Regions from separate parts of the Homo sapiens genome. Here regions 1, 2, 3 and 4 are each linked to region 5. Evidence: fine-mapped expression QTL. A gene starts in region 5. Each other region holds a variant in brackets. All regions are shown on one strand. Distances are between the middles of the regions.

The links.
Region 1: its variant is fine-mapped to the expression of NECAB2 in whole blood (TOPMed, PIP above 0.99). The same link has a PIP of 0.9 or more in blood mononuclear cells and monocytes.
Region 2: its variant is fine-mapped to the expression of NECAB2 in whole blood (TOPMed, PIP above 0.99). The same link has a PIP of 0.9 or more in neutrophils.
Region 3: its variant is fine-mapped to the expression of NECAB2 in whole blood (INTERVAL, PIP 0.92).
Region 4: its variant is fine-mapped to the expression of NECAB2 in whole blood (TOPMed, PIP above 0.99).

The regions. Positions count from the first base shown.
Region 1 is chr16:84,026,666-84,033,017 of GRCh38, forward strand. It overlaps SLC38A8 (solute carrier family 38 member 8), which reads right to left. Exons shown (of 11, transcript NM_001080442.3): 5 at 5,202-5,303; 6 at 2,829-2,886. Among named protein-coding and RNA genes, the nearest start is that of SLC38A8, 13 kb to the right of the region's middle. RefSeq lists enhancers at 459-960, 6,310-6,352. The variant G/A (reference allele first, on the strand shown) is at 3,150.
Region 2 is chr16:83,991,216-83,997,567 of GRCh38, forward strand. It overlaps NECAB2 (N-terminal EF-hand calcium binding protein 2), which reads left to right. Exons shown (of 13, transcript NM_019065.3): 7 at 3,087-3,205; 8 at 3,394-3,473; 9 at 6,001-6,054. Among named protein-coding and RNA genes, the nearest start is that of NECAB2, 26 kb to the left of the region's middle. RefSeq lists a silencer at 4,771-4,830. The variant G/C (reference allele first, on the strand shown) is at 3,284.
Region 3 is chr16:83,999,301-84,004,726 of GRCh38, forward strand. It overlaps NECAB2 (N-terminal EF-hand calcium binding protein 2), which reads left to right. Exons shown (of 13, transcript NM_019065.3): 11 at 1,424-1,501; 12 at 2,525-2,616; 13 at 3,018-3,476. The coding sequence ends at 3,046. Among named protein-coding and RNA genes, the nearest start is that of NECAB2, 34 kb to the left of the region's middle. RefSeq lists an enhancer at 3,024-3,806. The variant G/A (reference allele first, on the strand shown) is at 3,444.
Region 4 is chr16:84,066,321-84,070,320 of GRCh38, forward strand. It overlaps MBTPS1 (membrane bound transcription factor peptidase, site 1), which reads right to left. Exons shown (of 23, transcript NM_003791.4): 14 at 3,546-3,718; 15 at 2,019-2,134; 16 at 1,347-1,503; 17 at 169-293. Among named protein-coding and RNA genes, the nearest start is that of SLC38A8, 26 kb to the left of the region's middle. The variant G/A (reference allele first, on the strand shown) is at 1,752.
Region 5 is chr16:83,964,428-83,970,779 of GRCh38, forward strand. It overlaps NECAB2 (N-terminal EF-hand calcium binding protein 2), which reads left to right and starts at 3,817. Exons shown (of 13, transcript NM_019065.3): 1 at 3,817-4,422. The coding sequence starts at 4,222. OSGIN1 (oxidative stress induced growth inhibitor 1) reads left to right here. Exons shown (of 6, transcript NM_182981.3): 6 at 635-1,905. The coding sequence ends at 1,580. RefSeq lists a silencer at 3,693-3,882.

The DNA.
Region 1 (6,352 bases), 62 kb after region 5:
ATGCCCATCAAAGGACAGGGGATAAAGCGCAGCTTATCCACACAATGGAATATTATTTGACCACAGATAGGGTGGCTACAACATGGATGAATCCCACCAACACGGCGGGGGAGGGAAGCCTGTCTTAAAAGGCCACAATAGGATTCCATTCCTAGGAGGTGGCCATCGTAGGCAAATCCAGACAGACAAGAAGTGCAAGAGCTGCGGGCAGAGGTGGAGAATGGAGAGTGACTGACGGCGATGGGTTTCTTCGAGGGGCAACAGAAAGGTTCTCAATTGACTGTGGTGATGGTTGCACAGCTCTGACTGTACTAAAATCCATTGCACTGCACACTTCAGAAGGGTGAATGGCACGGTATATGCATCCTATCTCAATAAAGATATTTTTTAAAACCACAAAAACCAGCCAGGCACAGTGGCTCACGCCTGTAATCCCAGCACTTTGGGAGGCTGAGGTGGGCAGATCAAAAGGTTAAGAGATCGAGACCAGCCTGGCCAACGTGTTGAAACCTCGTCTCTACTAAAAATACAAAAATTAGCTGGACGTGGTGACAGGCGCCTGTAATCCCAGCTACTCAAGAGGCTGAGGCAGGAGAATCGCTTGAACCCAGGAGGCGGAGGCTGCAGTGAGCCAAGATCACACCACTGCACTCCAGCCTGGGCGACAGAGCAAGTCTGCCACAAAAGCAAAATTAAAACAAACAAACAAACAAACAAACAAACACACACTAGAAGTCCTGGTGTAGCCGCATTGGCTGGGAGTGGACACAACCCCTCTGCTCCTGAGGCCCCTCTCACTGACTGGACAGGCCTGGGGCGGGGGTGCCCCATTGCCAAATGTGTTTGGGCGGGGACGCTGTGTTTGAGTCAGGTCAGAGTTCCTGATGACAGTATGTGACCGTCCCTTTCCTGCAGCCCTCTCCAGCCTTACCCCCTTTTCCCAGCACCTTCAGTTACATTTATTCTCCCCCGCTTCAGATCCTGGCAGCCCCCACCTCTAGCCTGAGCCCCTACTCCCACTCCTTCAGTTCCTATCCTTCCCAGCTCTTCATCTCGGCATCCCGTGTCCCTGGAAACGCAGCCCAGGCCTCGTTGCTAGGAGAATCCGGTGAGGGCTGGAGGCAAAGGTGAGGGGCACCCCTTGCAAGCATCGGGGAGGCGGCCCCGGCGTAGGTCTGCTGCACCATATGGCGCTTGGGCACAGAGAGAGGTTCTTAAACTCAGTCCAGACAAACAGTTGACAGCAAAATCAGCTCTTCAGATCTTTCAAAATATTGGGCGTGCAGGAAGCAATGTGAGAAATCCACAGAAGTGGCTTGCTGAGGCCCTGAAGCAGCACGCCGACTGATTACGAGGAAGAGAAATGGAAATGTTTCAAGATTTTTTTTTTTTTTTTCCTAAAAAGGGTTCTCAAAGAAAAGGCAAGATGAAGAACAGAAGCAGAGCTCACTGATGGTCAAGGGAAGAGACGAGCTCAATGGCTACAAAGCTGAGATCCGGTGGTAAACCCTGGACACATCTCCCTGTGGACTTGATTTTACTTTGGAATGGTTTTGTTGGTGCTGGTGGTAGGCAGTGGATAGGTGGTTGTTTTTAGGACATCGAGGCAAATCTTCCCGAAAATAAGCAGCGTGGCCAGGCACGGTGGCTCACGCCTATAATCCTAGCACTGTGGGAGGCCGAGGAGGGCAGATCGCTTGACGTCAGGAGTTCAAGACCAGCCTGGCCAACATAGTGAAACTCCCTCTGTACTAAAAATACCAAAAAAAATTAGCCAGGCATGGTGGTGCACGCCTGTAGTCCCAGCTACTCAGGAGGCTTGAACCCAGGAGGTGCAGTGCAGTGAGCTGAGATCCACTACACTCCAGCCTGGGCAATAAGAATGAGACTCCAACTCAAAAAAAGAAAAAAAAAAAAAGAAAGAAATGGAAGAGCAGTGTCTGCTTCCACCTGCTAGGAGGGCTGCGGGAACCCATGACAGCCCAGAAGCAGAGGACTGAGCCCAGGCCCGCCACCTCCCCTGCCCCCCCTGCCCCGCCACCTTCCCCCCAGCGCTGTGCCACAGAGCCCTCTGCAGGTCTCTCTCCAGCTGTGCCTGGGGCCCGCTCACATCGGTGACCCACCTATGCTATCCCACCTGTGCTGTCCTCTCTACCTGGGGTGCGCTTCCAGTCACCTGGCTGCTGCCCATACATCCTTCAAGATCCCTTTCAAACCCCACCACCTTGAGCGGACACCTCTGACTCTGCCCCTCTGCCAGGATTCTACACATATAGCCCCGTCCTCCCTCCCATGACATTCTATTAAAAATTCTGTATTTCTGCCCCTTTCCCCTCTCCAATCAGCTCCCTGTACACCTTCCAGCTCCTCTACCCTGTACCCCTCAGGAGGCAGGATCTTTCCTGCCCAAGGCCCTGGGCAGAGTCCACCTGGGTAAAACTGTCCTGCCAGAGTTAGGTGGGCAGCTTAGGCCTCCAGGCCTCAGGTCTGACTGCAGTCCTGTGGGGGTTCTGCAGAGGAAGGGACAGGTCCCGGGTCCCCACACTCTACGCGAAACCTAAAAAACATGGTGCTGCTTTTGGCCATCAGTGGGGGCTGGATTCCCAAGTTCAAGGCAATTCCCACTTCCCTGAGCCCAGACACCAACCCATCCTCATGGTCTGGAATGACAGCCTGGGAACCACAGGTGGGCGGCACAGAGCCCACTGTATCCTAGGAGAAGTCCTCAGACGCCTCCCTGACAGAGAAACCAAGGTTTCCCAAGGGAGCAGAGAGTCACCCACAGCCTCTGCAAACGCCACAGGCTGCAACACAGATGCTAAAATTACCTGAAACCCGAAGCAGATGGTGGGGAAGACACTGAACACAGAGGTCCAGGAGGCAGGGCTGTAAACAGACAAGAACAGGAGTTTATTAAAGAAGGGTCACACCCGGAACAACCTGCGGCTGCAATGGTGAATTTTAAAGGATGCTGGGAAAATGTAACAGAGCATGGCTGCAAGATGTATTTTTAATGACTGTGTCCGTGACCGGGCTTTTGGAAATGGAAAAGGATGCTGGCTAAATGCTGCACTTTCTAAATACGTCTTTGCTGACATTTGGTAACATGACATTTTACATGTGGGCAGAATTTGGGCAGGAAAACCGCA[G/A]TAGGAACTCCCAACTTCCCTCTTGAAGGCTGCTGGCTCCCAGTGCGGTTTGGTAATTGGCAGGGGCGGGGGCACCCAGAGCATCCACCCAGTGATCCCAAATAGCACAAGGATGGTTTGAGCTCTGTCCAAGCCACCTAAGAGGACAGAGGTCTGCGTGGGGAGAACCTCCAGGTCCAGCCTCTTGGGATCCCCGCCTGGTTCACAGCTTCCTTTGACAGGCTTTGCAGGTGTAATTACTGAAAGTAAGATGAAGTCATGGTGGATTAGGGTGAGCCTGAATCCAATGCCTGCTGCCCTTATTGGAAGGGAAAACAGACAGAGAGAACATGGTGTGAGGATGAAGGCCAAGACCCAGTGATCCGTCTATCAGCCAAGGAACACAGATCGCCGCGGCCCCCAGAAGCAGGAAGAGACAGGAAAGATCTGCCCCTGGAGTCTTCGGAGGGAGCATGGCCTGACCACACTTTGATCACTTGTCACAACAGCCCTCGGACACTCACATATCCTAACTCATCACCTCCTGTTTTTACCAGGGCCTCCTCATCCCCTCGACCTGCCTGTGCTAGAGTACCACCGGCTCAGTGTACAGATCTCAGCACTCACAGCCTTCAATGCCATGTCTGGGCCAACGTCAGCCACGTTTCTCCTGCCAGCCCGGACCTCTCTCTCTGAACTTCAGACACACAGACCTGCCCAGCTGCTTGACTTCCCTCTTAGATGTCTCCAGGTCGGCTCTACCTTGACTGTTCCAGCCTGAGCTGCTCCCAGGGACCCGCCCTGCTCAGTCCTCTCTAATCCAGGAAACAGCATCTCCATCCTTCCCACTGTTCAAGCTGAGAGCTCCAAGTTACCTTGACTTTCTTCTCTCTCTTACTCACCTTCCAACCCACCAGCAGCACTGACCACAGAATTCACAGGGCCAGGTGCAGGAGGAATATGCGGGGACCCTTGTTGGACAAGGATTAAGGATTTTAAGACAGTGACATCAGAAGGGTACACTGAGCATGGGGCCTGGGTGACTGTAGGGGTCGCACACCCACGAGCCAGCCCTGCCACTGGGAAATCCGATCTCAAGCATATCCAGTCTGACTATTCCTCATTGCCTCCTCTGAAGCCACCAGGTCTGGGACCCGGGATCTAGGCAGAGGCCTCCCACTTGGTCTCTGTTGCTGCCCCTGGCTCCCAAGGACCACAGAACAGAATAAAAAGGGTGAGCCTTTTTATTAATTTTTTTCTTTTTTGAGACAGAGTCTTGCTCTGTTGCCCAGGCTGGAGTGCAGTGGTATCATCTCGGCTCACTGCAACCTCTGCCACCCGGTTCAAGCAATTCTCCTGCCTCAGCCTCCTGAATAGCTGGGATTACAGATGCCCACCATCACACCTGGCTGAATTTTATATTTTTATGTAGAGACAGGGTTTCACCATGTTGGCAAGGTTGGTTTTGAACTCCTGACCTCAAGTGATCCACCTGCCTCAGCCTCCCAAAGTGCTGGGATCACAACTATGAGCCACCACACCCTACCTAGAGTGACCCTTTCTAAAAACAAATCCTGTCACATCCCTGCTGTACTCAAAACACTGCCAAGTCTCCCAACTCATCCAGAGCAAAACCAAACTCCTCGCCGTGGCTCTGAATCCCTGTACGACATCCCCGCCCATGCTCTCTGCCCTTGTTCCGGCTGGCTTGGCCACACCGGCCTCCTCACTGTTCCCCTGCCCCGGTACATGCAGCTGGATGGCTGCCAGATTCTGTACCTCCACACTGTGGGGACAAGTCTGCAATAACCTATGACCCCTAGGCCGCCGCAGCCTTTGGCGGTTCTGCGTCCCTTGGCCTGTCCCGGTCATCGCTAGCCACGGCCAGGTCCCTGCAGCAGAAGGAGAGTGGCCCTCCCTTGCCTTCACCGCATCAGAGACGGAAAGAACTGGAAGGAAGGAGCCCAGGCTCTGCAGTGAGCCACGAGAGGCTCCTCCTCCAAGACTCCCCTCACAGACTCCCCTGCCGTGCCTCCCCGCCGAGGCTGCCGGAAGCTGTTCCCTCAGACTTACCTCAGTGAAGGATGGGACTCACGCACGAGGCCCTGGGGCCAGAGGTAGTACTGCACGGTGATGACCAGGGCCAGGTAACAGGCAGCCAGAGTGCCTAGGATGCTAACACAGTGACCGTGTGAGGGGCTGCGCAGTGGGTGACATGTGCGGTTGATGCACGGGGACAGTAGTGGGATCTGAATCCCAGCTCCGCCCTTGACAATGAGGTGCTGGCCAAGCTGTCCACCTCTGCCTCACCATCCTCATCTGTACAGGGGGCATGTGGGGCAGGGCTGCTTTGGGGTCAAGGGGTCAGATGTAGAGTTTTGTTGTTGTTGTTTTGTTGTTGTTGTTGTTTTTTGAGACGGAGTCTCGCTCTGTTGCCCAGGCTGGAGTGCAGTGGCGCAATCTTGGCTCACTGCAAACTCTGCCTCCCGGGTTCAAGCAATTCTCCTGCCTCAGCCTCCCGAATAGCTGGGATTACAGGTGTCCGCCCCCACGCCTCGCTAATTTTTGTACTTTTAGTAGAGACAGGGTTTCACCGTGTTGGTCAGGCTGGTTTTGAACTGCTGACCTCGTGATCTGCCTGCCTTGGCCTCCCAAAGTGCTGGAATTACAGGTGTGACGCCCAGCCCAAATGTGTAGAATTCTTAATGGCACCCGGCGCCCTTCGGGATGGCAGCTGTAATAGTGTTTCCTTCCCACCAGCAAAAGCTAATCAGCCACTCAGCCTGATGCCTAAGGCAGGACGCCAGCAGGCTCGCTCACACTTGAGAGGGGACAAGCCGCCCCCTGGCTTGGTCTGAGTGGCACGAGAGCCTTGCAGGGCAGAGACCTGAGGGAGGCTCGGGTTTGCTGCCTGCTGTTTCTATACAATGTCTATTGTTCATACACAACAGGGAAAAGGCAGGCAGCAGAGGGAGATGGATACTGTTTCCAAGCTTTATTTCTTCCTAAGTATACAGACCCTTAGCCACAAAAAAACAACCTCTGTGTGTGTGCACACATGTGCGTGCATGGGCACGGGGACATGCGGGGATGGGGGTGCATGTGTGGGTGGGTGAGCATGGGTGGGTGTGGGTACGTGGGTGTGCATGGGTGGGTGTGGGTAGGTGGGTGTGCATGGGGGGGTGTGGGTAGGTGGGTGTGCATGGGGGGGTGTGGGTAGGTGG
Region 2 (6,352 bases), 27 kb after region 5:
CACGTGATCCACCTGCCTTAGCCTCCCAAAGTGCTGGGATGAAAGGTGTGAGCCACCACAGCTAGCCTATTTTCTCTTTCTCTCTCTCTCTTTCTTTCTCTCTTTCTCTCATTCGTTCTTTTTTCTTTTTCTATTTCCTTTTCTTTTCTTTTCTTTTTTTTTTTTTTTTGAGATCGAGTCTTGCTCTGTCACCCAGGCTGGAGTGCAGTGGCGAGATCTCAGCTCACTGCAACGTCCGCCTCCCAGGTTCAAGCGATTCTCCTGCCTCAGCCTCCCTAGTAGCTGGGATTACAGATGCCCACCAGCACACCCAGCTAATTTTTGTATTTTTAGTAGAGATGGGGTTTCACCATGTTGGCCAGGCTGGTCTTTAGGGTGATCCACCCGCCTCAGCCTCCAGGTGCTGGGATTGCAGGCTTGAGCCATGGAGCCCGGCCTTATTTTATTTATTGACACAGAATCTTGCTGTGTCCCCCAGGCTGGAGTACAGTGGCACCATTGTGGCTCACTGCAATCTCCAACTCAGGTTCAAGCAATTCTCCCACCTCAGCCTCCCAAGGAGCTGGGACTACAGGCATGTAGTCCCACCCACACCCAGCTATTTTTTTTTTTTTTTTTTTTGTAGAGACGGGGTCTCGCCATGTTGGCCAGGCTGTTCTCAAACTCCTGGTCTCAGCAATCCTGCTGTCTCAGTCTTCCAAAGGGCTGGGATTACAGGCAGGAGCCACCACACCCCAGCCCACTTTTGAAAATTAGAAAGCAGTTTAGGAAATGGCATATGGTTATAACTGCACTCTCGGCATCACATGCCGTAAGTGAAGTAACTGTAAAAATAAGCACCTGTCATTGTTTACGATCCAGCTTGAATCCTGAGGCTTGCCACCTCTCTGTTAAAAAGAGAGACTGGGGGGAAATCAGAGAGGTGTTGAAGACAGTAGTAGCAAGTTGAGAGTTTCTCAGGAGGACTGAAAGAGACGTGAAAGAGGAGTGTTTCTTTCTGGTCTTGTGTTAGGCCTTGTTTGTGTGCTTGGAACCATGGGAATGCATCTGGGGTCCCATCCTAGGTGGTGGCTGCTGTGTTAGGGGTGTGACCTGGTATTTAGAGAGGAGCGACATTCTCGTGGCTCAGCAGTCCCATCTCCCGGGGAACACGAGCACCCGTCCCCCCGCCCACCTCCATTTGCTGTTTCAAATTGAGAAAAACCCTTCTTTGCTCAGTTCTTCCCAGAACAGCTGATGTGCTTGACACAGAAGAAAAAGAGAAAATGCAAACAGATGAGGGAAACAGCCAGGTGTCGGCACCCAAGCTCGATTGAGCCCTTAATTTTCCAGGCAGAGAGGTACCTCAGGACCAGGATATTGGTTTGCTGGGGGACTGGGGTTTGATCGTGTGTTTCTTCGTAGTTGAAGAGCTGGTCCTGATCAGACATGATTGTGAAGGTAACTCTGAGACACTGTTTCCCAAATGAGTTTGATCTGAGCATTTGCGCTGAATCACCTGGGAAAATTAAAATACACATTCCTGGGCTCCTGGCCATACTCACTGGCTAGAATCCCTGGACTGGAGCCCAGAACTCTGCACATGTGGTCAGTCTTGTGATTCTTGGGTGCCCCAGAATTAGCAGCCATCGCTGTGAAAAAAGCTGACACTTAGATTTCCTGGGTTTTCCTGTTACTATCTTGATGAAAAACTTGCTGTTTTTCTCCTGCCGCAGAACAGATAGTATGGCTGCGCAGTTTTCAGGGCAGACTTCCCACACTGGGTCAGCTCCATCACGCGTCAGCAGTTACACCCACCTGCCCCCATGGTGGGGACCTTACTTGGGGATGTTGTCAGACGGGGCAGCTTGTCGTGATACCTCTGTTCCACACATGCCCCTCCCTCGAACTTCCCCAAATCTCAGCTAGTTTGGCTCTAGGCTGTGGGTCCCTGAGGACTATCCTGTTTCCCAGCCCCAGGACAGTCTCCCAGGATGTCACCTCTAGCACAGGCTACTGGCTCAGACCCCACCACCCGGGAGCCCTGAGCAACCCGTCATGGTCTGAGGGATACATTTAATTTCCTGCTGGTTTATAGAGAAGCCATGATTGACACCATAAAGACTCTGCCAGCCTCTCCCCTCCCAAGGCGGGAGTCGAGTTTGCTCCCTCCGCAAGGGGGAGAGCCTGGCGGAGTGTTCAAGGTTCACAAGAGACAAATTCCAGAATGCACCAAGACCGCGATGCACAGAGACCAAGCGGGTGTTGGGGCCGTGCACAGGGCACTCTGTGTGTCTTCTGGGGGAGTGTCTGTGTTTCTGTATGTCTGCCAGGAGCTTTTCAGCATCCTTTTGCATGGGAGGATTTGGTCATTCATTGAGCATTTTTGAGTCCCTACTATGTGCTGGACACAGTGCAAGGTGAGCTGTGTGTGTGTGTGTGTGTGTGTGTGTGTGTGTGTGTGTGTGTGTGTGTCTGCCTCTGCCTGTGGCTAGCTGTGCCTGTCAGGGCACGCAGGGGTGTGTATGCACATGAGTATGCACAGGAGAGGGGTGTCCAGGGCCGGGAGATGGGGCCAGGCCCAGGTCAGGATCACAGTTTCTGTCCTGTTACATCCCGACTGTCAGTGTCTCTTTAGGTCTCGCTTTTATGTGTATGTGTTGGAGGGGGGTCTTGAAACCAGGTCCCCCACCCCAGAGGGCACCAAACATTAAATGGGCCTATCATGAGGGAGGGAGGGGGACTTGGTCACTCCACAGCTTGGGCTCTACACGTGCCCGAAAGCTTCGAGCTGTTAGAGTGGGGGTGGGTCCCTGGCTCAGCCTCACTCTGGAACTGAATCTCTTGGGGAAAAGGCCTAGGCCGTGGGGTCCTAGAATGGAGCTGAATTCGAATCCCAGCTCTGCCCAGCTAGCTGCGTGGCCCTGGCTGAGTCACCTGCTTTAAGAACCTCATTTCCTCCTCTGTCAAAACAAAGGCCATGATGCAAGTTCTGTGCATGTGTGAGTCCACTGTCTTGCGTAATAAATGCCTGTGGAAGATGCTGGAAGTGGTAAGGGCCCTGAAGCCACCGCCATGGTCTGTGTGTGTTCCCATCCAAACTGCAGACAGAACCACATCAAACCCAGCCACAGCGCGGCACAGACCTGGTGTGGAAGCCCCACTCCCGCCTCTGCCCCCAACCACAAGCTCATGGCTATGGAACAAGGCAAGACCCTTCCATCTGGTGAGAGAAAGCGGGGGCCCTGGTGGGGGTACCAGCTGGGGGTCCCGAGGAGTTCTGAGAGTCCTCTGACAGGGACTG[G/C]GGAGATGAGCAAGTTTGATGCCCCTGGAGGGGCTGGATGTTTCCAGCTTCCCCCCGAAGCCCTCGTCCTGCCCACCACTGAAGTCTGTGTGTCTCTTTCTCTACCGCAGCCACGGAGGATGCAAAGGAAGAGGGTCTGGAAGCCCAGATCAGCCGCTTGGCAGAGCTGATTGGGAGGCTGGAGAGCAAAGTAAGCCCTGGCCTGACCACGGCGTCTACTCCTTCCAACCCCTGAGGGAGTGCAGAGTTAAGCCTGGAGTTCAGGACAAAAGTCTGGGCTGCAGAGGGGCCAGGGAACCATGAAAAAGACATCCCCCAGGTGGGGCGTGGAGCTGCCGAGGACGAAGCTAAGGATCAAACCCCGGGGGATGCTCGTGTTGTTCAGGCCCAAGGAGGGGCGCCTGGGAAGAGAGAGTGTTGGGGGGTCAGGCGGGCCTGCAGGCAGCAGGAGCAGCTCCAGGAGCAGAGGGTGGTCAGCAGGGTCCCGTGTTGCAAGGCCCTAGCTTCAAGGAGACTTTGCTCTGAAGTGGCTGGAGCAGATATTGGCCGAAAGGCAGCACCAGGATGAAAGAGAGACGTGATGATTCGAGAGAGTTTCAAAACAAGGAAGGAAGTGACCAGCAGTAGCAAATGTATTAAGTGTGATATGGGACGTCCACAGGTGATAGAAAATGGCACAGCCCTTACAGAAAACATTTTCAGATAATGTTTCGTGACTCGGGATAGAGTGCTCACAATATGACCATTTGGTGGAAAGAAAAGTTTGTCTTAGGGCCTACAGACAGATGGGCTCAGGTATCAGTCAGAATTCTGGTTGTGCCACTTCATAGCTGTGTGACCCTGGGCCAGGGACTTGTCCTCTCTGAGGCTTAGATTCCTCCTCTGATAATCAAGAAAATAACCTGGAGCATGGGACCCCTCCCTCATAGGGGTGTCGTTAGGATGAACCAAAATGATGTCTCCGGTTTAGCACAGGGCCCGGTGCTGTAGCTTGCATTTAATATTAGCAATGTTAGCAATTATTATGAGGCATTCTGTTACCCAAACCTATCCACATGCACACAGCACACCCGTATACCCACATAAGCCAAGGTAACTGAGCTCTCAGAACCCTGGGATTGAGGTGGTTTTATGTTTCTCCTACTTTTGTGTATTTTTTTTACACCCTTTGTAAAGGGTATTGCTACTTTTAGTTTGGGGGTTCTCAGGCATTCATGGGGGCAGGAACAAGGGGCTCCCCGCATGGAGGGAGACAGAGGCTGACGTGGAATGAAGTCCGAGGGAGGAAGCTCAAACTTCCCCTCCTGCAGGGATGAGGCTGAGGTGGAGTTACCCCCTTCCTGAAGCCAGCTGCGGGAGCGGCTCGGAGGGGACCCCGTGGCCCGGTTGTCATAACAACTCAGCGGGCGCCTCGGGAGGGAGACTCTGAAGCTTATTTTTAGAGCACCGTCGCCCTAACAACCAGGCTGGCTGGTAACCACGGAGTACCTGGGCGTCCTGGAGACGGGGTGGGACCAGGTCCTCCTCCCCAGCCTCTAACTGGCCCGGGCGGTCAGCAGGGGCCAATCCGGGCCTGGCTTCAGGCCCCGCCCTTCACCGGCCAACCGGAGCTGCCTCTGGGCTGGAAGGATGGAGGCTCTAGGGGCCCCTGGCTGGGAGAAGAATGGGGCAGATACAGGGGCCACAGTGCCTCTCCTCATCCTCCTATGGCTTTTCCAGCCCCAGGACCCCTCACGTATGCTTGTAAAACCATGGAAACAGACTTGTTCCTGCCAGGCACACCTTCACCACTTACCAAGGCGTGTTCATGCTGTGTGCCCCCAGAAGGCAGTACCCTTGCCAGGATCAGCTACTACAGAGCCCAGTGCAAAATGAGCGTGCAAGGTCCCTTGCTCAAACATTTAGAACGTCACGGTGGTGACTACACAGACTCATCCACCTGCTGCTGTTTTCCTTATTAGCTGGCGTGCTTTACCTGTGGCTGCCCTGTGTGACTCCCGTAGATGGTCTGTCCTCATGGAGGATGGACAGAGATAGCCACAGAGGTGGTTAGTGGGGTGCCCAAGCTGAAGGAAGCAGCAGCATGAGCCTGTGCGTCAGGTAGACACACTGGGTTCAGACCCACGCTCTGACACTTACATGGCTTTCGTGCCTTCAGAGCCGGGGTTCTCTGCCGTGACATAGTGACTGTTGATCTTCTGTGGGGGCTCAGCCCTGTGTGGGCACCAGTCGTGGGCGAACAGAGCAGATGTGGTTCCTGGAGACCGAAACTTACAGTGGGGCAGCACCTTCCCTGGGGAGTCTGGAAGATTGTGTATTTGTAAACCATCTAGCTTAGAGTCTGGGGAAGACCAGAGAGAACAGTTCACCCCATTAGATCCCTGAGGTGCTGGGGGTTATGATTTGGGGTGAATTATAAGTTACAGGGAATCTAAGGGCTGTTGCTCATCATAGTGGCAAACCCCAGCATCTTGGACTCAGGCCTCTGGAGTCCCCCTTGCTGCCTCTCCCAAGCCATCCTCACCCCAGCAACATGTTCTAGGCCCCCTGTAGGCCAGAGGGAGTCTCTGCCACTTCCTAGCGTTGGTCTCCCAGCCCTGTGCAACAGGGCCGGGTCCTTGGGAGCTCCCAACAGCCCCAGGGATCCCAGAGCTCCTGGCTCCCCGGGGCGGAGTGGGGCTCTGGGTCTAGCATCACTGTGTGCTGGATTGTTTCAGGCACTGTGGTTCGACCTGCAGCAGCGCCTGTCAGATGAAGATGGCACCAACATGGTGAGGCCCCTTCCCACCTCTCTTCTGGGACCACATCCCTACCCATGCCAGGACTGCCAAGATCCAAGTGGCTCAATGCCCCTGACCCCGCTCTCCCTGCTTGGGACCACCAGGAGGGGAGATGTCGCCCAGCGCTTGGCACCCAGACCCTGCCCTGGCACAGGAGCCACCCCACCAACTCCGGGGGTATTTCTTGAGGCTCCCTGGACCTTTTTTTTTTTTTTTTTTTTTTTTTTGAGATGGAGTCTTGCTGTATCTCCCAGGCTGGAGTGCAGTGGTGGGATGTCGGCTTACTGCA
Region 3 (5,426 bases), 34 kb after region 5:
CAGACTGCACAGGAGCAGGGGCCAGACTTGATCTTTTTCCATTACGTGAATAAGTGGGAGGCTCCAGGGTGAAGTAGGGCCACCCCGATGCGCTGTGGAGAGGAGGCACGGTGGACGTAGAGGCTCTGGTTTGTCGAGTTGGAGACGGCAAGCCTGGAGAGCCAGGTGAGATTCTACTTCCCAGGCATGGTGCACCTAAAGCTGCACGGAGGTGTGTCCACCCCAAGATGGAATCCAGCCCGGCCCCTTCCTCTAGGCTGAGCACTGTAGCCCCTCCTCCCCAGCTTTTGGCCCCCGCTTTATGGTCACTTGGGGCTTCCTCATTGTAGTGCACTTGCAGAGAGGATTCTGGGGCGGCATAGACTATCAGCACCTTTAAAATGACGTGAGTGCGGGCCCCTGGGTCCCATAGAGCAATGGGGGACTTGCCTGCAGCCCCTTCCTCTGTGGCCCAGCACCCCCTCCCCTCAGCCTCCTTTGGTCAGGTCAGGTACAGTGCAGTGGGGGTGTTGCAAGGATTAAATGAGAGGACAAGTAGAAGGAAGAAGAGGGAAGATGCTTTGATTTTTAAAGGTTTTTTGATTTTTAAAGGTTTTTTGAGACCAAATCTTGCTTTATTGTCCAGGCAGGAGTGAGTGTGTAGTAGTGGAAGCTCAGCTCACTGCAACCTCTCACCAGAGGGTTTAAATGAGTCTCATGCCTCAGTGTCCTGCATCGCTGGGATTACAGGGATGTGCCACCAGGCCCAGCAAGTTTTATTTTTTTTTTTTTTAAAGAGACAGTGTTTTGCCATGTTGGCTAGGCTGGTCTTGAACTCCTGACCTCACGTAATCCACCTGCCTCGACCCCTCAAGACTTCCCAAAGTTCTGCGATTACAGGCGTGAACCATCACATCCAGCCACCTGGTTTTGTTTAAATAAATGTTCACACTTTAACATGACATTTCAGCTGGGCACAGTGGCTGAAGTTTGCAATCCTGGCACTTTGGGAAGCCAAGGTGAGAAGACAGCCTGAGCCCAGGAGTTAAAGACCAGCATGGGGAACATAGCAAGACCCCATCTCTATTGGGACAGTTTTTGAATTAGGCCGAGTGGTGCACTCCTCTAGTCCCCGCTACTTGGAAGGCTGAAGTGATTGTGCCACTGCACTCCAGCCTGGGCAACAGAGTGAGACCCTATCTCAAAAGAAAAACTACACTGCATTGATTCTATTTAATAAATAGCTGTTGGCCACTATAAGAAGCCAGGCCTTATTCCCTGTGCTGGGGTCACCCTGTCGAGTCTCGATGGAGGTCAAGACAGGAAGAAACATTGAAGGCAGCCGTTGTGTATAGTGGTGGGTCTCAGGCCACCCCAGGGGAACAGCACTGAGGTGGCCTTGGTTGAGCTCCAGCCTCCTCCCCCCGACCATCTCCTGTTGCAGCATCACTGCCGTGAGGCTCTCAGATGGCTTCACCTTTGTCATCTATGAGTTCTGGGAGACAGAGGAGGCGTGGAAGAGGTGAGATGCTGGGTCCCCACAGCAGGTGAGGGAGACAGAGGGAAGTGGGGGGGCTGTCTTCCTGGAGCCAGGCATCCTTGGAGGGGAGGGTAAGGCCGAGTCCAGTCAGCAGATTCCCGAGGCATCTACCCGCTGGCATGCTTGCGTCAGTAAACCCTGGTGGAGGCAGGAGCTCTTGGTGGGTAGTGAGAGCCCCCACCACACTCAGCTGGGCTTTCCTGCTTTCCCCAGGGTTGCTTCTGTGCCCCTAGAGCACCTTGTCCTCCTGGAACAGCCCTGGGGGCCGAGGCACTGCCTTCTTTACCACCCTGTAGAGTTGAGGGCCTAACCTAGAAGGTGACTCAGTCCCCATGTGATCAATTGTTCCAGCGACTAACCTCCCCTCCAGCTGAGTGCCCGGTACGAGGGACGGAGATGGGGTAGGGTGTCAGCAGCTCTGATGGGCCTTAGGCCTTTGTCCTCTGCTCAGCACACATCTGGGAGAGGGTGGAGACTATTGCTGATGCGCCAGACCCCACAGGCAGGAAGCGGGGCCTAGGGGTAGCCCATGCCCCCATCTCCTGCTTCCCTGGTAAACACTCACGGTTTGCTGACAAACTCAGGACCCCAGTGGGAACAGGGGCGGTCATGAGAAGTGAGAGTGTCCCCTCCCTGTCCGTACTTCAGTGACTCATAAAACGAGGGACTAAAAGCCTTCGCAGCTTCTGTGTTGTCATGGGTCCCAGGCAGAGGATGGCCCCACTCCTCCTGCTAGGGTAAAGGGGGAGGTAGAGGCTCTGTGCAATGAGTGGGGGGATCCCGCTGCCCATTTATAGCTCACAGGGAAAAAGAGAAGCTCACTGCCCACCCCAGAGTCAGCCTCCCTGGGCACCCCCTCACCTTCCCACAAAGGCTCTGAGTCCAAAGACCCCCCGTGCTTATTGATAAGCTCCCCATTTTGGGCTAGAGCTAGGATTAACAGGGGAGCCACACGCGGAGCTCCACTCCTGCCACCCCTGACTCACACATGTCCCTGCGTCACAGGCACCTGCAGAGCCCCCTGTGTAAGGCGTTCCGGCACGTCAAGGTGGACACACTGAGCCAGCCTGAGGCCCTCTCCAGGATCTTGGTGCCAGGTAGGGGGCAAAGGCCTGGAACTGCAGTGGCCACCTGACTGGAGAGAAGGGCAAGAGCCTAGAGGCTGCCCCATATCTCCCGGGGACTTGCCTGCTTGCTGTGGGCCCACTGTCAGCTCCTGCCACCAATGCCAGGCTCAGAGCCAGCCCTGAGGTGGCCCCACATACAGGTATGCCTGCCAGAGCTTGCACCAGAGCACCCCCTCCACGGCCCCCTACTTCCAGCCAGACTGAATTTCCCTTCCCAGGTGTGTGGTTTGCACCTGGGTGACCAGCAAGGACCTGTGTGTCACACAAGGACTCAAAGCCATCCCCCGACCTGTCATTCAAGACGACCACCACCAGCTACGAGGCTGCCCACATTCGCACTCCTTCCCTCTAACGTGTCTCTCTCCTTTTAGCTGCTTGGTGCACGGTGGGACGGGACTGACAGCCTCCCAGAGGCCCGTGGAGGAGCCCACCAGCCCCTTCTTCTTGTGAAGGAAATCCCGTTTTTTTCTAGACAGACACTTTGGTGCAGAAGCTTCTTTTCAATCCATCCTCCACAAGAAGGTGTTTCCCTGTTGTTAAGTGAAGGAGGCCGCCCCTGCCCCCACCTGAGAAGGCAGAGCAGTGTCTGTGCTGCCAGGTCCTGGTGAAGCCCAAGGTTGAAGGGGGCGGCTTCCTGGAGCCAGCACCCCTGCCTCCTGGTCCTGGCCTCTCCCCTACCCCTCACATGGCCACGCATGACCCACACTGACCACACCCTGCCCTCTTCGGTGACATTCTTCTACCTAGTAGGAGTCATGCCCCTGTAGTGCCCAACCTAGCCAGGTAGCCACCACTGT[G/A]CCCAGGCGCCAAATAAACCCTGGTTGGGAAGAGCTGTGTGCTCTGTGTCTGTTTCCTGGTTGACAACAGCAGGGGGCCAGGGACCCTTCAAGTGCTCCCAGCCTCAGTTTTCTGAACCATGAAATGGTGGTGGTCACTCTATGCGGTATTTGGGAACTAGGCTCATGCCTATTCAGGAGCTCAGCACCACACCTACCCTCAGGTCAGTAATTCAAAGGACTGGGCACAACTGTCAAAGTCACGGTCAAGGTAGGTAGATGACAGACAGACAGACAAAATCCAGCAAAGAAAGAGGCTCCCGGAGTGGGGGGCCAGGCACGGGGCTACCAGTAAAGGCCCATAGCACTGAACCCTCCCAGCTTCAATGCTGATAGAGCATCACCAATCAGGGATGCAGTCCTGAGTCTTACTGGGGTTCGGTGACGCATACACGCTGACACCTCATGGCTCAACACCCCACCATAAATCACATGGTTGGCCCAGACCACGCAGTGTGGCTCAACACAGACACTGTCACCAGGCAGGACGCTCCAGGGACGGGTGAATGCCTCCCGGCACGTCTGTGCATTAGCCATTCAACACAGCAGGAGACCCCGCCTATCAACTGGAAATCATGTCTTAAGTCTTATTCTGGAAGCTTTGTAACTTCTTCCTATTTCTCAGTCCGGGTTAGCAGGAAAGAAGTCACTCACAGCCCAGTGCAGTGGCTCAAGCTGTCATCCCAGCACTTTGGGAGGCCGAGGCTGGTGGAACACCTGAGGTCAAGAGTTTGAATCCATCCTGGCCAACATGGTGAAACCTCGTCTCTACTAAAAATATAAAAATTAGCTGGGTATGATGGTACACGCCTGTAATCCCAGCCACTTGGGAGGCTGAGGCAGGAGAATCGCTTCAACCCAGGAGGTGGAGATTGCAGTGAGCAGAGATCACACAACTGCACCCTGGGCAACAGAGTGAGACTGTCTCAAAAAAAAAATCACAAAAGTTCAAAGGACAAAGAGAATGGTGGGTCCCTCTCCTAAAACAGGGCAGAGCCAAGACCACAGGCCAGGGCACAGGTGGGAGCCCTGAGGGGAAGGGGCAGGACCCAGAATGGGCACCTTTCTACCTCAGGCACAGAGCCTGGAGGGCTGGCCAGTGCCACATGTGGTTATTAACACTCACCACCCAGCAAGGTCCCTGCCCACACTGTCCAGCCCCCTGTGCTTGCCGGGAGCTTTGAAACCCTGCTCCCAGGGCAGGTCCCTGCCCCTTGGGTACTGCCACCTCCTTGCGGGGTGTGATGCCTGCCGCTGCAAAACCAGCAAAACACGACATGAGTTTGTAGGAAAAGAAAAGGGGTTCAAGAACCATCTGTATGTCTCCAAGCTGAATGTCCCTATACCAGCCTCTCAGGGCCTGTTTTCTCACCTGTAATGTGGGGAAAAGACCCCTCCCTTGAAGGATCAGGGGCTTCACTGCCTGGCGCACGAGAATGCCACTTACAGGCTCCTGCTGCCCCACCCACAAGACTGGTACATTCCAACCACCTCAGCTATTCTAAGAACAACATTCTCAGGGGCTAAGGCTTTCTGGGGTACAACTGAGGAACCTCCTTTAGCCGGGCCTGTTCCCCTCCCACATGTCACATCTGCCCAGGCCTCCATGGGGGGTGATATCTCTGCTGATTGCAGCCCACGTGCACTGAAAGCCTTCAGGGGCCCCCTCAGAACCTGAGTGGCCGGGGATGGGCTCTGACAAGAACATGTTTCAACCCTAAAAGCTCTAAGAGCTCCCGCTTAATTCACACTTCAGAGCCTGGCACAGTCAAGCACTTGACAGGCCCATCTCCCTCCATGCTCCCCTATGCTGTCCTGCTCTTGGCAGGTGGGGAGATGGAGACAGAGAGGGCAAGCAACTCACCAGAGGTCACACAGCAAGTAAGTGGCTCAAGTCAGATCCAAACCCAGAGTTCTGTGCCTAACCCCTGCGCCACACAGCAT
Region 4 (4,000 bases), 100 kb after region 5:
CAAAACTAGAGCCTCACAGATGTACTTTTGAAAATACTGGTGAGTTCTTTCCACAGACTCCAGCTAACTGAGGGATCACCATTCTCTTTCTCAAGAAATCTAGACTTCAGAGGTGTAGAGCTTCTGCTCTCACACCTAAGACCACGCCCTCAGGAAACAGAGCCTTACTGTCATGGTTGGCCAGGGTGAACTCCCCTTCATACAGGCCATCGCTGAACCCCATGTTCCACACAGACAGCAGCTCATTCAGAGCTGGGATGTTAGCTCCTCCGGTATCCGGCATCCACCACTGCCTGGGAAAGTGGTAACAGACACACAGGGAACAGGGAATGAAGACACTCCATACACAGTTATTTAGTCTCTGTGACAAAACTCAATTTCTCCTGCCACAATCCAGTCCTTCCACACTAAGGCTTCAACTGAAACCAACTGTCTGGGTTTGGGTAAAACTGCAAATTTAAGTGCTTCGGCTGATGTGTAGAATTAATTAAAGCAAAATTTATTTTATGAAATGAAAATCAGTACTTTACCGAAATGCACCAGAGATAACTGCTTAGCCTAGACCCAGCAAGGTTCAGTGAAGGAGAAGGAGATGAGAAAGAAGCATAGAAATGTTCAGTCACAGATTCTAAAGAAACCGATTCAAAACATAAAGGTGATTATGTTTATAATACATTGGGAGTCCTTGATCCCAATAAAGGGAAGGACATTATTCCCTTTGAGTAAATTAATTACTATAAATATAAGTAAATTAATTATTGTAAATATACAATATTTAAATATACAATAATTTACTCGAAATATTCTTTAAGAAACAGTTCCTTTGGTGCATTTAAATTTATATATACTCAGTAACAGAGAGTGGAAAAGAATTAAACAGAAGTTTAAACCTGAAGTATCTCATATCTAAGATTAACAAGGAAAGACAATGAACCCTCTATATTATTAACAGTACTCATACTCAATAAACATCTTACTCTATGAGCAACTTTCAAGAACCTCTCTACTGTATAAAGGACTATTTTCTTTTTTGTGTTTTATTTTTTCTCTTTGAGATAGGGTCTCTCTGACACCCAGGCTGGAGTACAGTGGCTTGATCTCAGCTCACTGCAGCCTTGGCCTCCCAGGTTCAACCGATCTGCCCAACTCAGCCTTCCAAAGTGCTGGGATTACAGGCGTGAGCAACCGCACTCAGTCGAAAGGGCTTTTTTTCTAATCAAGCTCTCTGAATGTGTCTGTGCCAACTGGAAAGACCACCAACAGGTCAAATCATCACTTAAGTATTTGCTGGGTAGAATTTGATTCCCCAAAAGTCTTATCCAAATACCAATGCGTATCAACAGTACCTTGTGTTTTCATCATAAAACTTCACTTTTCTCATAACAGAAGTGTTGTACCAGTCACTGAAGATGACGAGCGAGAGGCCGTTGTCCACGTCCCTCCGGAGCTTGGCGATCTCTTCAGGGAAGTACTCCTCCTCACTGTCCACCATCAGCAAAGTGCCTGATGAACAAAGAACCAAAGCTGGGAACTGTCACTTCTGAATGACAGGACACCACCACGGCAGAAACAGTGTCACCAGGTACATGTCTCAGGTTACTGACACCTAACAGTCTGGTTTGTGCCACCCTGTACCACTTTAAAAGGGACTAAAAAGTAGAGGACCAGGATCCAGCAATACACAGCGACTAACTGTGATCTGATTTCACTTGTGGTGCTCAGGATAAAGATTTTCATTCACTTGAGAAGGA[G/A]CAAAATATATAGCAGAGCTGCTTTTAACTTAAAGAAAAAAGAGTACGAATGTCCCTGTCTCCAATCAGCCTGTCTTGTATTTCAGCTGAATGTCACACCGCCACCACCTGTTTCAGAGCCTCGCCCCAGGCTCACCCAGCTGTGGGGCCCACGGCGCATACTCCCTTGGTAGCTATCACTGAAAACTGGGATTCACTCCTCAGACATTTAACAAACATCCAAAGTGGGCGGAAAGACCATCTGGCTAGCACAGCAGTGCCACTTACCATACTGACTGGCATCAAAACACGTGAAGGGGGCCCCGAGGACCTCTACAAAGTAGCCCATGCTTCTCAGATGCTGGTACATATCCCTGAAATTGGTGTGGATGTGATCACCATTCCTGAAAAACAATAGGCCACAGCATTAAAATGATCGATCTTTACTGGCAATAAAGGCATATCTGGCCACAGGGCCGGCTCTGCAAGAGCACCATGCCATGGCCCACAGAGAAGGCCTGGATGGCTGGCCCACTGGCACAGGCATCAGCTTAGGAGACCTGTGTGCTCTGGTCTGGACACACGGAAATGGCTGATAAGAAGAAACCATGTGCCTGGCAGGTGCATGAAAGAGACAAAATGACCAGAAGAAATGGCCAAAGACATGTTTAATGTGTCCTGGACCATCACTGTAGCAGTCGCGTTCAAGTAAATTGCTGGCAACCATCTGTGTCTGACAGAAGAGCTTAGCAAATAGCCGCGGGAGTGCAGGGACGCTGGAACAAGCCACGCAGGGCCACGGTGCTAAGACAGCGGCACAGCTAACTGATATCACTGCCACTGGTCAACTTTCCATCCCCGTCCCTCCCAAATGAGCTCACTTTCCTATGGGACACTGTATACACCCTCTAGGGGTCACCTCATTCTCACCTCCCAGCAGCACAGACTCCAGGTCCTCTCCTGCAGGCCAACGGGCTTGCCTTGGTCTATGAACTTCCCACCACTTCCTGTCTACCCGTCTCTGGTCTGAGCCCCTCCAATCTGGCTGCCAGAGACATCTTATTTTAAAAGGCAAGTCTGACTCTGTAACTATCCTGGTCACATCTTTCAATGCTTCCCCTTCCCCTACTTTCAGCATGGAGTTCAAACGTAGTCCAAACATAAAAGCAGAAATGAGCTTGGCTAATGCACCAAGAGAAAGTCAGCCCAGCTGCCCTGCAGGGAACAGGCACAGGGAGAGCGGCTATGGGGACTGCGGGGGAAGCAGTGCCAGCTTCTGAAGGGCTGCATGGGTCACACCAGGGGGCTTGGCCGGGTGAGGAAGTCAGAATAGGCAGTCACTGGAGAGCTTGAGGCAAACTGTGTTAGAATTTGTTTTAAGATTACCAAGGTTGCCAGAAGAGGAGTGGAATTTAGGGCAACAACAGCAACAGCAGTGGCACTCAGGAGCTGCTGATGTGGTCCAGGCAAGAGATGACAATGGCATGGACTAGGGTGGGAGCAGGGAGAAGGCCAGAGATGGAAGGATCCAGGATGCAGTTTGAGGGTAAGACTGACAGCTTTGCTGACTGGCGCAATGGGAGAAGGAAGGAAAAGAGAACTTCAAGCTTTTTACTGCATAATCATACTTGTGAAAGTTTCAAAAGAGAAGTCAGGCTGCCCTAAGTGCATGGCAAAAGCCTGAACATCTCAGCGTCATCAGAGTCCAGGCTCCACGAGAAGCTGAGCAACATCTTTCCAAGAGTTGCGGGAACAGTGGTGCCTCCTCCCACCACGGAGGCTGGGGAGGTGAAGTGCATCCTGTGAGGTGCTTACCAGTCTAAAGGGTCATTCTTCATCCTTAAATTATCCCTGGGGAAATAGCCAGGTGGATAGCGGAGGTTGTGGTACTGATCCCAGAGAACTCTCTTGCTTCGCGGGGGAGTAGGAATTATCTTCACCTTAATGGGGAGCTTTACTGTTGAAGTCTGTTCTGCACCATTTTTTGACTAAAAAAAAAGAAAAGAAACTTGAAACGCCCTCATTGTGCAGAAAGAAACTTTCAGGTTTGAAAACATCATTTCTATTTATCAACTTAACCTAAATAATTTGAACACAAGAATTTCCAATAACAAATGTCTGATGAAAGATTCATGTATCATAACTAAGTCCATTCAAACACTTAAAGAGTTTAACAGTTAAAATTTAAGGCATATTCTATCAATAAAAACTACTAGAGCCTCATAGGATTAACCCTACATTTCCTTTTAGAGAATGTATATTTTTGGTGC
Region 5 (6,352 bases):
AGCAGGCCCCCTCCCAGAAGCCCCCATGCCCTTTCTGATCAGGATCCCATTCCCCATCCCCGGAGGTAACCCCTCTCTTGACATCCAGCTCCATAGATGAGTTCTGCCTGTTTCTGAACTCTGTAAAAATGGAATCATACCATATTTAATCATTTGAGGTGACAATCATGGTGGCCTATCCTTACATGGCACTTACTTCCAGTCAGGTTCCATCCTAAGCACTTTGTGTTTGTCAGCTCACCAAATCCTCCCCACGACCTCACGAAATAGGTCCTGCCACCAACATCTTCCTCATTTTGCAAACTGGGGAAACAGACACAGCTCCCTGATGGCAGAGTCAGGATTCGAGCCCAGGCAGCGGGGCTCTGGAGGCTGCCCTCTGAACCCCACCCTACACCACCCTAGAGCATCCTACACCACCCTACACCACCTCTCCTGAGGGAGGCACCCTTGTTAGCTCCATTTTACAGAAGAGGAGACTGAGGCTTAGAGAGGTTGAATTACCTGGCCTAGTCCTACAGCTACAGCCTAGTCCAGCTCCAGGGCCTGACACTGCCCTGGACATCTCCCGTCCCACCCAGCCCCCCAACCCCTAACAGTGTCTGACTCTGGCGTCCTGCATCCTCCCCAACAGAGGTCTTCGCAACAGCCGGGCCACTGCCGGGGACATCGCCCACTACTACAGGGACTACGTGGTCAAGAAGGGTCTGGGGCATAACTTTGTGTCCGGTGCTGTAGTCACAGCCGTGGAGTGGGGGACCCCCGATCCCAGCAGCTGTGGGGCCCAGGACTCCAGCCCCCTCTTCCAGGTGAGCGGCTTCCTGACCAGGAACCAGGCCCAGCAGCCCTTCTCGCTGTGGGCCCGCAACGTGGTCCTCGCCACAGGCACGTTCGACAGCCCGGCCCGGCTGGGCATCCCCGGGGAGGCCCTGCCCTTCATCCACCATGAGCTGTCTGCCCTGGAGGCCGCCACAAGGGTGGGTGCGGTGACCCCGGCCTCAGACCCTGTCCTCATCATTGGCGCGGGGCTGTCAGCGGCCGACGCGGTCCTCTACGCCCGCCACTACAACATCCCGGTGATCCATGCCTTCCGCCGGGCCGTGGACGACCCTGGCCTGGTGTTCAACCAGCTGCCCAAGATGCTGTACCCCGAGTACCACAAGGTGCACCAGATGATGCGGGAGCAGTCCATCCTGTCGCCCAGCCCCTATGAGGGTTACCGCAGCCTCCCCAGGCACCAGCTGCTGTGCTTCAAGGAAGACTGCCAGGCCGTGTTCCAGGACCTCGAGGGTGTCGAGAAGGTGTTTGGGGTCTCCCTGGTGCTGGTCCTCATCGGCTCCCACCCCGACCTCTCCTTCCTGCCTGGGGCAGGGGCTGACTTTGCAGTGGATCCTGACCAGCCGCTGAGCGCCAAGAGGAACCCCATTGACGTGGACCCCTTCACCTACCAGAGCACCCGCCAGGAGGGCCTGTACGCCATGGGGCCGCTGGCCGGGGACAACTTCGTGAGGTTTGTGCAGGGGGGCGCCTTGGCTGTGGCCAGCTCCCTGCTAAGGAAGGAGACCAGGAAGCCACCCTAACACTCGGCCAGACCCGCTGGCTCCCAGGCCCTGAGAGGACAGAGATGACCACATCCCTGCTGGATGCAGGACCCGTCCAAAGATGCCCCGGGGAGGGGTGTCAGCCCACGTTGCTGGCCTTTGGGGTCAAGAGGAGTAGGGATCCCAGGCTGCCCTGGACTTAGACCAGTGTCTGAGGTGGTAACAGCGGCCGCAGGCCAGGGTTGGCCTAGACCTGGGATTTGTGGGGAAAGCTGCTGGTGTGACCAGCTGAGCACCCAGCCAGGAGACCTGCAGCCCTGCGCCTTCCAGAAGCAGGTCCCAAATAAAGCCAGTGCCCACCTGCTCTCATGCGTCTGAGGACTCTGTGCTCGGAGGGAGCTGCGTTCCCGGAACCCTGCACTGGGCTGGGGGGAAGGGAGGAAAGGGGATTGTGGGAGGAGTCCTGGGGCATGTGGTCCTGGATGAGGTCCATGGCTGGGGCCTTGGGGTACAAAGGATGGTGCCCCAAGTGTGGGGGCAGTTGAGCGGGCAGCTGTACTAGAGTCTGGGGGTGGGAGTGGCGGGTGTGTGCAGGCAGTGATGTCCAGGAGGGCGCTGCAGCCCCGCCCCCTCCGCAGCCTGTCCCAGGCCTCCCTCCTCTCTGTTCTGCCATGCGGCCTCCTTTCAGTCCCTCCTGCTGGCCAGGTCTCTGCCTGCCCCAAGGCCTTTGCACAGAGAGTCCCCAGCCCAGGACAGTTTCCCGCCTTTCTTTAACTCCTTTTCCTTGGGATGTCTCAGCATAAGAATCACTTCCTCTAGGAAGCCTCTTCTGACACAAACCCCTCCACTGCCGTCACAGCAAATACTCCTTTCATGGTCTAAGGTGCTACCTTTTCATAGCAGTGCAGTTTTTTTTTCTTTTTTTTGAGACAGAGTCTCATTTTGTCACCCAGGCTGGAGTGCTGTGGCGCTTGGTTCACTACAACCTCTGCTTCTGGGTTGAAATGATTCTCCTGTCTCAGCCTCCCAAGTAGCTGGGATTACAGGTGACTGCCACCTCGCCCAGCTAGTTATTGTATTTTTAATAGAGACGGGGTTTCACCATGTTGGCCAGGCTGGTCTTGAACTCCTGACCTCAAGTGATCCGCCCTCTTTGGCTCCCCAAAGTGTTGGTATCACAGGCATGAGCCACCACACCCTTCCAGCAGTTCAGTTTTAATTGTTCATTTGTTTGTGGAATCATTTCAGTGTTTGGCTCTGCCCACTTGGATGTAAGCTCCAGGAGCTCTGGGAGACCAAGTACACCATCTGTTTTGCCCATTGCTGGAACTCCGTGGTTGGGCACCTGCCTGGCACCTAGTGGGTTCTCCTTAATTCATCTTTTAAATGGATGGGTGGATGGATGGATGGGAGGATGGGTGGGTGGGTGGACAGATGGATAGATGAGAGGATGGTTGGATGGATGGGAGGATGGTGGGTGGGTGGATGGATGGATGGATGGATGGGAGGGAGGGGGGTGGGTGGGTGGGTGGATGGATGGGAGGGAGGATGGATGGATGGATGGGAGGGAGGGAGGATAGATGGATGGATGGAAGGATGGTGGGTGGATGGATGGGAGGGTGTGTAGGTGGGTGGATGGATGGATGGATGAGAGGGTAGGGGGGTGGATAGATGGATAGATGGGAGGGTGGGTGGGTGGATGGACAGACAGATGGGCGGGCGGGCAGATGGATGGACGGATGGATGGATGGATGGATGGATGGATGGATGGATGGATGGGAGGGTGGATGGATGGATGGATGGAGGGTGGATGGATGGATGCCAGGGAGGGAGGATGAGTGGGTGGGTGAATGGATGGATGGATGGGAGGATGCTGGGTGGGTGGATGGATGGATGGATGAATGGTTGGGAGGGTGGGTGGATGGATGGACGGACAGTCGGCCGGCCGGATGGATGGATGGGAGGATGGGTGGATGGATGTATAGATGGATTGATGGACGGGTAGGCAGGTGGATGGATGGATGGATGGATGGACGGACAGGTGGGTGGGTGGATAGATGGATGGGTGGATGGAGTATGAAGGAAAGATGTTCTGGGGTGAAGACTGGTTCTGGGCGTTTTGTAACCAAGGGGGCGGCCTGAGGGGGCGTGCACGCCCGCGGGAGTTAAGGATGGGCGCCCGCGGGCGTGACGGGGCCGCGGGGCGTGGGCGCCGCTCCCCGGGGCTGGAGCCGGCAGAGGGCGCTCCGGGCTCGCTGGACACCCGCGCTTCGGCCTCTGCTGCGCGCCGCGAGTGGGAGGGGGGACTTTAGAAGCGGGGAGAGCAGGAGACTTTTGGGGAGCAGGCCCCAGGGGCGCCGCCCCGCCCCCAGGCCCCACATACCCCTCCCCTCCGGGTAGCCCCCTCTGTGGCTGCGCCCGCGCCCCTCGCCCCGGCGGGCAGTCCTCAGGCCCCGCGCCCGGCCGGCGGGGGTGGGGGCGGCGGGGAGCGGGCACGTGGCTCGGGGTCCGGCCGGCCCGCCCCCCGGCGCCGGCCAGTCCCCGCGGTGTCCGCGGCCGCGGGGGCAGCGGGAGAGAGGGCGGGGCGGCGCGGGCAGCGCGGGGAGGGGGTCGCGCGGGGGCGGGCCGCAGCTGGGCGGGGGTCGGCGGGCTTCCGGGCGGCGGCGGCGGGCGCGGCGCGATGTGCGAGCGGGCGGCGCGCCTGTGCAGGGCCGGCGCGCACAGGCTGCTCCGGGAGCCGCCGCAGCAGGGCCGGGCGCTGGGCGGGCTGCTGCGCTGGGTGGGCGCCAGGATGGGCGAGCCCCGGGAGTCGCTGGCCCCCGCCGCCCCCGCGGACCCCGGCCCAGCCTCGCCGCGCGGGGGCACCGCCGTCATCCTGGACGTGAGTACGCGCCGGCCGGGACCCCCGCCGTGGCCTCCGCTGGGACCCGGAGCCCCCTCCGCCCCTCGGGCGGACCCCGACGCCGCGACCCGCGAGGCCCTCCCTACCCGGGCAGGAGACCCCCGGCCCCTCCGCGTGCCGGAGCGGGAGCCCCCAGCCCCGCCACGTCCAGGCCGGTCTCCAGCCCAGTCCTCTCCCTGGACCGGGAGACCCCCCTCCTCCGCCCCTCCACCGGCGCTTCTCGGAGTCCCTGCCTGCCCACAGTGGGGAGCCGTGAGCCCCCGGACCCGGCCACTGTCCCCCTAGTTTTGTCCAAGCCAAACCCCCACCCTTTACCCCGCGGGACCGGAGCCCCTCGCCGCGTCCAGCCGCCTCCTCCTCTCCATCCCGGATCCTGTCCGGAGCGATACTTTTCTGAGACCCCTAACAACCCCTACCTCTAGCCCACCTCTCTTCGCCCTAGACCCTGAGCCCCCGTTCATCTCACGCTCAAAGACCCTTTGCCCCAGCTACTGCCACTTTAAAAGTGAAGCCCCCTCCCCACCTTCTGTCTTCTCGTCTCCTTTCCATTGAGCCAGAGCCATCGCCCATCAGCCCTGAGCTGGTACCCCTCTGGTCTTCCCCACCCCGCCCCCTTCCATTCCAAGTCCTCTGTTCCCTTCCCCACACCCCTCTACCCTACAGAGAGCTGGGTCCTCTTCATGGACCAGACTCACCCCTCACCCCTCCTAACTCCCCTGGGACCCAAATCACCCATCTCTGGGAAGCCCACCTCACCCTCCCACCCGCCCCACCCGGGAGGGAGGAATCTTCAGGGGGCGGCTCGGAGGAGGAGGACTTCTCCCAGCAGAGAGTGCTAGGAGGAGGTGGAGGAGGCTTCTGGGGATGTTGACTGCGTGTTTCAGCGAGGGTCCTGCTGGGGTGGGGCTGGGGGCTGCCTCTGCCTGTGTGGTGGATTTCTGGGAGAGTGGTGGGTGTGTGTGAATGTGCACACGCGTGTATCGCGGATCCCTGTGAGTCGGGGGATTCCCTCCCTTCCTCTCTCCTCTTCCCTGCTCCTGGAACCCTTGGCCGGGGTCTGGGCTGGGAGGGCCGGCCAGAGCAGGGGGAGCTCTAGAGTGCCACACTCGCAGGCACACATTCACACACTCACGCACTCGCTTACGCACGCACACACAGCCAGAGACACACCCATGCAGCCAAACCATCCCCTCCTCAGGACCCCCGCAGAGCTCCCACTGAAAGTCCTGGGCAGAGCCCTGCAGCCCCAAGCTGCCCTGCATGGAAGCCCTGCCCAGTCAGGGTGGGGGCTCTGAGGTTCCATCTCCTCACCTGCCAAAAGGAGTGATGAGCGGGGGGTGGGGCGGGAGGTGCTCATGCAGACTCCTGGAGCTGGCTGACATTACCAGGTGTCAGCCCTGCCATGTCACTCATGTGTTCAGCATTCCTGCCCAGAGCCGGCACCTACCTGGTGCCTGGCCTCAAGGGGGATCTGGGACACCCAGATAGGGACCCCAGTTTTGAGGAGCCTTGCCCAGTCAGGAACGGGGCTGCGGGGTGCCCAGGCTGGATCTTTGAGGAGGGCTTGGGGATCTGAGGTTCAGCCAGGAGGAGGGGTGATGTTTGAGAGGCCCTCCCATAGCTGTGCTTCAGTCTCACCGCCCAGGTGCCTAGAAATGACCAAGGGTGCCCCCTTTCTCGTTGCCTGGAGGGATGGGGGGCGAGGGCATCTGTCCTTTACCCCAAGGCGAGGACAGAGGGTGGAAGGGTCAGAGTGAGTATTACCTCCTCCTCCTCCATGGCTGACCTGGCCCCAGCAGCCCTCCCTGGTGTCGGGAAATGTGTACATGTTGCTGCCTCTCCCTGGGTCTCAGTACCCTCCTTGTTAAAACAAGCCACTGAGATTGGGGTGGGGGCCACCGCAGAAGCT